Linked DNA regions of Homo sapiens: region 2 is linked to region 1. Evidence: fine-mapped expression QTL. A gene starts in region 1. The other region holds a variant in brackets. All regions are shown on one strand. Distances are from middle to middle. Region 1 holds the start of INSIG1 (insulin induced gene 1). Region 2 overlaps LOC105375587 (a long non-coding RNA gene).

Region 1 (5,371 bases):
AATAATTACAGACACCTGTCCTAGTTCTTCAACACGGAGCCCTCTGTTAATCTGCTACAAACCTCTCTGCTGCTTGCTGTTTTCAGTGAGTCAACTGAGGCAATGTGTTTCCACAGTGCAGGAGACACACCTACCAAGGCAGCAGGAGCAGTTACCAACGATGGCTTGGCCCCTTTCTACCTGCGCACCCTTGGATGTGACTTCACCTGTGATTCAGTTGCCACATCTATAAATGAAGCTACACATGGTATTGCTGTAAGGAATGAACACAGCAAAGCATCTGAAGCCTATGGTCAGCAGTCAGCTGACAAACGTCAGCCACAAAGCAAACAGGATGCTCCCTGCACTGCACTGGAGTCACTGACATACTGGTTTGTTTTCCCCACCAGACTCTAAGCTGCTTAAGGATAGGGGCTTGTGGTGCTCACTTTTGGATTAACATTTCAACAGCTTATAGAGTTGAGGTTGCAGAAAGCACCCGACAAGCTCGTTAAATAAACAAATGCTGTGTGACTACAGGAGCAGTAAGTGATCTGCTGAGCCAAGATCAACTCAACATTTCTATAAAAGCGGTTCAATGATAGCCAAGAAAGTCTAGTACACACACCCAGCAGTCCCCGTGTCCACAGTTCAGACTGACTCAGTGTTACGTTGTACAGCATCTATGCTACTGCTTGGGTGTACGAAAATCTAAACGCCGTAAGGGGGTTACTCTTTTCCTTAAGAACGTAATCTACAGAGCTCTAACAGTTCAGGGTGTAGGCGGTTTGGCTTCAGACCACAGTTTACTCAGCGACCCGGCAAAAGGAAGTGCTGAGAAGTTGCTCCCCTGGCAACCGCCTCCTGAACCCATGTGACGGGTTTGTTTTCAGTTATCCAGCAGGGTAGCATGTTTGCTGCCGCGACCAATGGCCTTTCAGTCCCGCTGCTCACCAGTTCCCCAGGCGGCCAATCCGGGGCGGCTGGCGCGGGATGACAGCTGGGGCTGTACCCGGACGCCAGGAGGGAAGGGCCCTCAGTCAGCTTGGCACAGCACCTGCTTGAACAGCCAATTATCTCCCTGCCTCATCTCCATCACTGTGCTTCCTCAAACTTCAGAGAGCTGTGGCCCGAACCCGCCCTCGGGGGTGCCAGGTCCTCTCTACCCCTCCTTCATTTCTCTAAATCCCAAGACTGGAGATGCACACTTTCAATCTGTGGATAGTTCCAGTTTCAAATGCATGTTTCTTATAGGCTGAAAAGTACTTTCAACCGAAAAGACACCCTTTTTACTTCCAGAAGAACCAGGAGGGGTACTCACCAGCTGCTGTCCCGCAGCAGGGAGGGACCCACCAGGCGGAGGAAAAGATGGTGGCGATCACCTCCTCGGGGAAGAGAGTGACATTCCTCTGGATCTGCAGCAGGTTGAGCACCAGGGCTAGGACCACCCCAACCGAGAAGAGCACGAGGCTCCTCTGCAACAGGCGATGATGCCAGGTGTTGGGGTAGGGGCTGCCGGGCTCGGGGCCGCTCATCGCAGCACTGCGGCCCCTGGGCGCGGGGTCAGCGTCCGGGGCACCGTGGGCCGCCAGCAGGGAGGGCCCGGACACGGAAACGTTGATCATCTCCCCAACCTTGGCCGCCAGCCCCGCGGCGCTGGCTCGCGGGGGGCCTCGGCGCCTCGCGCTGTGCGCACAGGAGCAGCTCCAGAAGTGGTCGTGCAATCTGGGCATCGGTCACACGCGTCCAAGAGGCGCTTCCTGGAAGAAGGGGGTCATCAAGTTCACTCAGAAGAGACAAAGAGCGAGGAAGGCCCCGCGGGACGCGAACCCCGGCACCCGGGCCAGGCGGCAGCGCCGCCCCCCAAGGTTAGACCCCCGTGCGCCCGCCCGGGGCCAGCGGCGGACGGGACCCGCGCTCACAGCGAGCAGCATCCCCGGCCCCAGCGGGACCCGCGTCCCAAAGACCCAACAGGGCCCGCGCCCGCCTACCTCCGGGGAGGACCGGCTGCTGCGCGACCAAAGCCCGCCCGCGACCCCTATCCCAGCCGGCCGCGTACCTGGCCGAGAGGCGCCCGCCCGCCGGCTCTCCGAACGGAGGCGGGGCGGGGGAAAGGAGGAGTCACGGCCCGGGACGGCCGCAGCGCCTGGCGGGCGCGCGGGTTTATATGGCGGGCCGCGGGGCCCGCATCACGTGAGCCTGCCCGGCCTACCCACCGCCCGCGCGCACCGCCCAGGGGCGTGGCCTGAGCTTGCCCCGCCCCGCCCGCGAGCCCGTCCGCACGCGGTCTGGTGAGGCGGCCGCAACCAATGGGAGGCCGGCGGCCCATATGACGTGCGCACACGCCACCGCCGGCCCGCGCGCACTCGGGCGGGAGCCTCGGCACGGACTGCGGGGCGCGTGGCGGCTGCGGGGCACGCGGGCCCGAGCGGGACTGGCCGGCTGCGAGTGGGCGGCCGCGGAGCTGGGGCCTGGGAGGGGACGGTCCTGCCGGGAGGAGGCGGAGGCAGGACAGGGTGGGGTTGCGGGCCCGGCGCCGCCCCTCCCGGCTCCTGGCTCCCCTCGCCTGGTGTCCCGCGCCTGGCCGGGAGGCGGCGGGTCTCGATCGCGCGGGCCTCCCTGGAGGGGCGCGGGCTCTGGCGGCGGGGAGGCCCCTGCTCAGCGCAATGGCGGGCTTGCATCCTTGGGTGATTTTTTCGGGCCCCTTGTGGCCTTTGCTCACGCCTAGAGAGCAAACCACCCGCACCACCCAGGAGCAGATAAAATCGAGACCACAGCCTCCAAGGGAGCGCGCCTCCATCCTGTTTGCCCCTCGGGTCGCCGTCTGAGGGCGGGCCCGTGCCCGCTCAGAGCCTACATCCGAGTCGTATAAAGCGCTGACAGCAGAGAAAGCTGCGGCTTTGCTCCGTGCAGATGAGCAGGGGCTGAGGGAGGACGCTGTGCTCTCAGTAGCCGCGCTTGGCCCGGGGACCCTGCAGGCTTAGAAACGTGAGTCACGCCTGCAGCGTGGCGAGGAAACGCCGTTGATGTGGCATCCTCAGCCTGGGGTTGTGGCTTTAAGCCAGAAGGTCAAAAAAAGAAGTCTTCCTGAGCTGAGACTGCCCTGAGTCGCTTTAGGGGCGAAATTCCGAGCATCCGGTTGCATTTCCTGAGGATGACACGCGTGGTGGGTGTGGACGGCCTACAGGGGTCCATCCTCAGCGGCCCCTCTGCAGGGCAGTCTCGCTCTCACTCTCCCAGCTGACTCCTCTCAAGCCTGTTAACCATTGTACACGTTCCCAAGGACTCCAAGCAGGTTGGACTTCAGGGAACATTGCAGTTTGGGTCTTGGCCATTGTTTACACTCCACCTTGCATAAGTGCTTGAGGATCACACAACCAGATACGTAGATCATCCGTAGATCATCGCAGTCACATCGAAGATTTGTTTATAATAGGAAAAAAAAAAGCTACCCACTGTCATGCGCTGGGAAACTAGTGAGCTGAAGGATGACCCATCTGTAAATGGGGTGCTCCCTAATGGACAGGGCACCTTTCAGAAGCCTGTGCTGTGTCTCCTCGACCCCACTGTGAGCTCCCCGTCCCGCACGCTGATCTAAATCAAGCTGCTAACCTCATGGAGAGGCGTCCGCACGGGAGCCCCGGCCCTGAGATGCGGGGCAGTCACCCATTCAATTAGGAAACACCAGCAAGTGCCAGAAGCTTCTCATTAGCAGGTCAGCTTTCAATAACTGGTTTATCCAGGTGTGTGAGACCCGATAAGCAGAAGGGAAAGCTCTTAGCGACCTATCCAGCTGCTCTGCACTGGGCTCCTGACATCCCAGAAATCAGTACATCTGTCTTCTGGGGTCCAAGAGGTATTTCAGTTTCTCTGGCTTTGTTTCCCGTCATTTGTACCTGGCCCTGCAGACTACCCCAGTATTTCCATCATAATACCCCTGTGGGCAGGTGCATACCTCATGACAATATTTAATATTAATAGATTTATGTGTTGTCTCCAGAATGGAAAGGGGCTGTCTATTCCTTGAGCTAGTTGGCTTGCTAAAGACTATTGACTTCATTCTTCTTTTCCTATCTACCTAATAAACCAGTGTTCATACAACCCAGCCTCTCTGACTCTGTCCCTCCTCTCATCTGTACTGGGACATTATGAACCATGGAAGATCCTGGAGTCATAGAGGCACCCTGTGGCTCTGTGGCTGTTGCACTTACACCGACCAAGATGTCCCGTGGGAATGTGGGAAGGTTGCCCGTGGGGTTCCTGCTGAGGGCCTCCAGCGTGGCCTCTGAGTCGTAGGTAGAGATTGTCACTGCGTTCCCAATGTGTGTTTGCCCAGGTGCCTGTGGAGTCTGGCCCCATGAAGAAATGCAGCCTGGGGTAAAGACAGTGGGAGAGTTTGAGTTTACCCCCTTGAATACCCCCTTTGAAGACCGAGCCTCCATATCAGTAACCACATTCCAAGATTTTCAGGGGTTGAAATTTGCTTATCCTCAAGCAAAGCTGTTGTTGATTTTGTTTCCCTGCTAATCGTGGGCCGTGTGTTGAAGATAATGGGGTTCATTCTCTTCAGCCCCTGTCAGCCACTCTGAGTTCAGCATTTAGGGAAATCTGCTCATGATGGCACCGTTTAGTTCTTAATTGCCCCACAATACAGAAATCATCACAGATGTGGCCTTACTCTAGGGGAGTTGACTATTGTTGAGTTAAACACCTCGCCGTGCCTTCCCAGATCACTAAGTAACCCTCAGACTGGTGGCCTCTGTACTGAACAGGCTGGCGGAAGGGAGCACAGGACGGCTGTAGCTCTTTCGGATACGGAAGAATCATGCACTCATAAAGGCCTAAAGACTGGGAGGTGTCACGTAGTGAGCAATCTTGCCTTTAGTCTGTTCTTACTGTTCTTTTTATTATAACATTAATAACCATTTGTAAGAAATATTCTTAAGATAAAGTAGATTACCAAATATATATTTTTTCATATAAAAGCATCACATGCTCATTGTAAAACATCGTGGAAAAATATATTTTAAAGAAATAGTCTATAATCCTACCAACTAGAGATGACCATTGTTAACATTTTGAGGTATGTATTTCCAAATATTTTTTCTATCCATAAATGTGTTTAAAAAAACACAAATAGGATCAACTTCACATTAGTGGAACCAGTTATTAAGTGATCATGAACGTCTTTTAAAGGCAATCAATACAGACTACGCCATTTTTTAATAGCTTTAGTGAGGGCGAATTCATGCATTGTGCAATTCACCCATTTAAACGGTGAATTCAGTGTTTTTTTGTGTATTCACAGAGTTGTACAACTATCATCACAGTCCATTTTAGAACATTTTCATCACCCCAGAAAAGACCTTCATATGCTTTAGTTATTGCCTCC
Region 2 (5,371 bases), 58 kb after region 1:
TCAAATTGTTATATCTACTTCTGTTCCCTGGAAAGCAAAGCCAGGAGAGCGCATAGCACAGCTCCTAATTTTGCCGTATGTGAAAATGGGGAAAAGTGAAATTAAACAAACAGGTGGATTTGGAAGCACAAATAAACAAGGCAACGCGGCTTATTGGGTAAATCAAATTACTGATAAACGTCCTACCTGTGAAATAACTATTCAGGGAAAGAAATTTAAAGGTTTGGTAGATACAGGAGCGGACATTTCAATCCTTTCTCTACAGCACTGGCCGTCTGCGTGGCCAATTCCACCCACTCAATTTAACATAGTTGGAGTTGGTAAAGCCCCTGAAGTATATCAAAGTAGTTATGTTTTGCATTGTGAAGGGCCCGATGGACAATCTGGGACTATTCAACCAATTATAACTTCTGTACCTATAAATTTATGGGGAAGGGATTTATTACAACAATGGGGAACACAAGTTCTAATTCCAGAACAATTATATAGCCCTCAAAGTCAACATATGATGCATGAAATGGGGTATGTCCCTGGCATGGGAACAGGAAAAAATTTGCAAGGTTTGAAGGAACCGCTTCAAGTGGAAAAACAAAGTTCCCGCCAAAGATTAGGATATCATTTTTGATGGTGGCCATTGTTAAGCCTCCAGAACCTATACCTTTAAAATGGTTAACAGATAAGCCAATTTGGATAGAACAGTGGCCGCTAAGCAAAGAGAAACTGGAGGCTTTAGAGAAATTAGTTACCGAACAATTAGAAAATGGGCACATAGCTCCAACATTTTCCCCTTGGAATTCTCCAGTTTTCCTAACTAAGAAAAAATCAGGTAAATGGAGAATGTTAACTGACTTAAGAGCCATTAATTCAGTTACACAACCTATGGGAGCATTACAGCCAGGATTGCCTTCTCCTACTATAATTCCAAAAAATTGGCCTTTAATAGTCATAGATTTAAAAGACAGTTTCTTTACTATCTCTTTAGCTGAGCAAGACTGTGAAGGGTTTGCATTTACAATTCCTGCAGTAAACAACCTGCAGCCTGCTAAGCATTTTCATTGTTTCACAGATGGGTCTAGTAATGGTAAAGCTTCCTATTCTGGCTCGAAAAGTAAAGTTTTCCAGATGCCCTATACTTCAGCTCAAAAAGCAGAGCTTGTAGCTGTAATTGAGGTATTGACTGCTTTTGATATGCCTATTAATGTGATTTCTGATTCTTCATACGTGGTTCATTCCACACAGTTAATTGAAAGTGCTCAGTTACGATTTCATACAGATGAACAACTGATGACTTTATTTACCCAACTGCCAAGAGCAGTTAGAAGTAGAATGCACCCTTTTTACATCACTCACATTAGGTCTCGTACACCTTTTCCAGGACCTTTGGCTGAAGGGAATCAAATGGCTGACCGCCTAATTGCTAATGCAATCTCAAATGCTAGACACTTTCACAATTTAACCCATGTGAATGCCTCTGGTCTCAAACGCAGATGCAGTATTACCTGGAAAGAAGCTAAAGCTATTATCCAGCGATGCCCAACTTGCCAAATGGCCCATTCTTCATCTTTTACAGGAGGAGTTAATCCTCGAGGATTGGAACCTAACTCTGTTTGGCAAATGGATGTCACACATCTTCCCTCGTTTGGGAGACTAGCTTATGTACATGTATGTGTGGACACCTTTTCTCACTTTGGGCTACAGGCCAATCAGGAGAGCCTTCTGCCTGTGTTAAATGTCACCTCTTGCAGTGTTTTGCAGTGATGGGCATTCCAGCTTCTATTAAAACAGATAATGCCCCAGGCTATCCTAGCCAAACTCTAGCTACATTTTTCTCTTTGTGGAATATTAAACACATTACTGGTATCCCATACAATTCTCAAGGACAAGCCATAGTGGAAAGAATGTATCTTTCCCTAAAACAGCAGTTGCAAAAGCAGAAAGGGGGAGACAGAGTATATGGAACCCCATAGATGCAACTGAACCTAGCATTATTAACTTTAAATTTTTTGAGCCTGCCCAAAGACCAGATGTTATCAGCAGCTGAACAGCATTTACAGAAACCAGCTGCAAAGACAAAAG[C/T]GGAACAACTGGTTTGGTGGAGAGATCCAATTACAAAACGTTGGGAAATAGGTAAAATAATAACTTGGGGTAGAGGTTATGCTTGTGTTTCTCCAGGCCAAAATCAACAGCCGATTTGGATACCATCAAGACACCTGAAACCTTATCATGAGCCAGATGCAGAGGAAGAGATTCCAGGAGGATCCCGAGGACCCCCGGTTGCAGCCATGTCAAGACTGACGCTGCGGAGGACCCCAACTGTCACGAGCAACACCCATCGAACACAGCCACCCACCTGGGGACAGAACAGGAAGCTGTCACAGATGGCGGAAGAAAACCTGAGGAAAGCGGGACAACCAGTCACAATGAATAATTTAATGATAGCTCTGATAGCGGTTATCACCACCGCCGTGAGTATTCCTTCAATAAGGGCTTACACAGAGAACAGTTCTACTTATTTATCCATCTTGGCTGGCAATAATGACTGGATGCAATCACTCTGACAGTTACACATGCTTTCTGATCTCAGTATTCACCATAATAAATCTGCTCTTATAATTGACACACACCACCCTCAAAAACCTATTTGTAAACAGGATTGGAACCAGTTAGAAAAAATGAGCGTACTTGTTTGGAAGATTGCATTGCAGAACAGGCAGAGGTGCTGCACAACGATTCCTGCGGAATCATTATTAATTGGTCCCCCAAGGGGATGTTTAGCTTGAACTGCACCTCTCAGTCTGCGTGCCACGGCCACACTATGTTCAGATGATCTGAACAAAACGGTCAGATGGTAGAAATGGTAAGAAGTACGGCAAGAGTTCCTATTATCTGGAACCATGGCGGTATAGTGGCACCTCAACCTCAAATGATATGGGCTGCTCTAGGAGCTTAACATAAGGATTTAAAATGAAAAGAACAAATATTTAAAGCATCCCAGGCACACCTGACCTTAATTCCAGAACCTGGAGTGCTCAAAGGAGCTGAAAATGGAGAAAAAACACTTGGAAGCTCTGTGATTTCAAAGATGATTGTGCTTTTAATCTGTGTTGTTTGTCTTTGTATAGTCTGCAGATGTGGATCCTGACTCCTGCAAGAAGTAGCTCACCGTGACAAAGCTGCCTTTGCTTTTATCGATTTGCAAATCAGAGAAGGGGGACATATTGGGAGCAGGCCCCCCAAAATCTGGCCATAAACTGGCCCCAAAACTGGACTGGCCATAAACTGGCCCCAAAACTGGACTGGCCATAAACAAAATCTCTGCAGCACTGTAACATGTTCATAATGGCCCCTAATGCCCAGGCTGGAAGGTTGTGGGTTTACAGGGATGAGGGCGAGGAACACCTGGCCCACCCAGGGTGGAAAACCGCTTAAAGGCATTCTTAAGCCAAACAATAGCATGAGTGATCTGTGACTTAAGGACATGCTCCTGCTGCAGTTAACTAGCCCAACCTATTCCTTTAATTCGGTCCATCCCTTCGTTTCCCGTAAGGGATACTTTTAGTTAATTTAACATCTATAGAAACAATGCTGATGACTGGTTTGCTGTTAATAAACACGTGGGTAAATCTCTGTTCGGGCCTCTCAGCTCTGAAGGCTGTGAAACCCCTGATTTCCCACTTCCCACGTCTATATTTCTGTGAGTATGTCTTTAATTCCTCCAGCACCGCTGGGTTAGGGTCTCCCCGACCGAGCTAGTTTTGACACTTCTGTTTCTAAGTTTTGTGGGAACCACCGTCCTGAGCCTAGTTTCTGACATGTGAAGCTGAGGTCTCTGTGGATGGCACATATGAATGTGGAGCTGAGAGACTAGCATGGGCAGGAAGAACGGGGGCAGGGCCTGGGCCTGTTACTATTCATGGGGAGACACCCCTTGGCCCTGCCCTGGGCCCTTTCAGCCTTCACTTGTCTCCTGGACTCTTGGCCCCGCAAGTCACCCCAGACACCACCGAGGTGATCTGGTCTTGGGAGCCCTGGGGCACAGCACACAGTATGTGCCTCAGGCCCCAGGTGCTGGCTGCTTCTGCCCCGTGCTCACTGCTGCTGCGGATTTGGGATGCACCCAGCACTCTTCAGTGGTGCTACTGAAGAGTCCCAGGAGTGGGCCTTGGACTAAGGATGGTGAGGAGCTCTCCTCCCTTTGTCCTTTTGATGGGCCACCTTGGGCCTCAGTAGCTCATGGGGGCTCTCAGCCCTGTGAGAGGGCACAGCCAGCTGTGTTTGGAGCCCTCAGTGGCCGGTTGGGGACCCCGACTCTGCATACTTGCCTAATCAGCCTCCTGGCCTTCCCCACCCCTCCTTGGGACTCCCCAGTGGGCAGCAGAGAGAAGCTCGGGCTCAGGCTCTGCTTTCAGGGAATCAGTGAAGACAGAGCCAGGAGGAGAGCAGGTGGCAAAACAGGACAAGAAGCCAGAGAGACTCAGTCATAGAGGAGACCGCCCTCAGGGAGGGTGCCTGGCTGTGTCTCATGCCACCGAGAAGGCACATTAGAGAGGTGCCCAGCAGCACCCTGGCTCCCTTGGGGGGAAGATTTGCAGGGACAGGAAATCAGAGACGGGAGGAAGCCAGCCCTTGAGGGGAGTTTCTGGAGGATTGGCTGCCTGAGCTGGGAGGGAGTCACAGGGCCACATTTAGGGGGATGTGTTTCTAGGTTAGAATTTTTTCTTTTCTTTTCTTTTTAAGATTAAAGTCTTGGGAATCTTTCTCTGCTTATTAAAAATAATAAATTGAAAGGGATAGGCTAGAGTTAAAAGAGAATCAATGGACCAAGGGCCTGGAGGAAATGGGGCAGGACCCAGCTGGTAGGAGGGGGTGGCTACAAGCAGAAGAAGAGGGGGGCCCGGGCCACTGAGGGGCGAGGGGCACAGATAGGGTGGAGTGGAGGGGTGTGTGAGAGACAGAGACAGAGAGACAGAGAGACAGGCAGAGACAGAAACAGACACAGAGACAGAGAGACAGAGCAAGCAAGAGAGAAAGAGAGAGGGACAGAGACAGAGAGGGACAGAGAGAGATAGAGACAGAGAGACAGAGGTAGACATAGGGACAGAGAGAGGCGTAGGAAGGCTGAATGTGGGATTCACTCTGGCTTTCTCGTTAGCTCTGTGCACCAGGGGAAGCCCTGTTGCTCCAGCTGAAGTGGGCAGAGGCCTGGCAGCCTGGGGCAGGAGGGCAGAACAGCTCTCTGAGGATGGCAGCAGCACTGCTGGGCGCCGTGAGCCCTGGGCTGGAGCAGGGATGGCAGTGGCACCCTTGTGACTGAAGCTTTCTCTAGGAGTTCTGGGAACACCAGGGTAAGGCGGTGGCAGGCGGGCAGGTG

Evidence for each region. PIP is the estimated chance that this variant, and not a neighbour inherited with it, causes the effect.
Region 2: its variant is the best candidate, but not a certain one, in a credible set for the expression of INSIG1 in whole blood (INTERVAL, PIP 0.77).

What each region holds. Positions count from the first base shown.
Region 1 is chr7:155,294,627-155,299,997 of GRCh38, reverse strand. INSIG1 (insulin induced gene 1) reads right to left here and starts at 2,120. Exons shown (of 6, transcript NM_005542.6): 1 at 2,039-2,120; 2 at 1,301-1,739. The coding sequence starts at 1,712. It overlaps INSIG1-DT (INSIG1 divergent transcript), which reads left to right and starts at 1,018. Exons shown (of 2, transcript NR_183448.1): 1 at 1,018-1,847. RefSeq lists enhancers at 595-664, 3,075-3,124 and a silencer at 1,785-2,614.
Region 2 is chr7:155,236,585-155,241,955 of GRCh38, reverse strand. It overlaps LOC105375587 (a long non-coding RNA gene), which reads left to right. Exons shown (of 5, transcript XR_001745437.2): 4 at 2,173-2,465; 5 at 3,123-3,687. Among named protein-coding and RNA genes, the nearest start is that of INSIG1, 59 kb to the left of the region's middle. The variant C/T (reference allele first, on the strand shown) is at 2,077.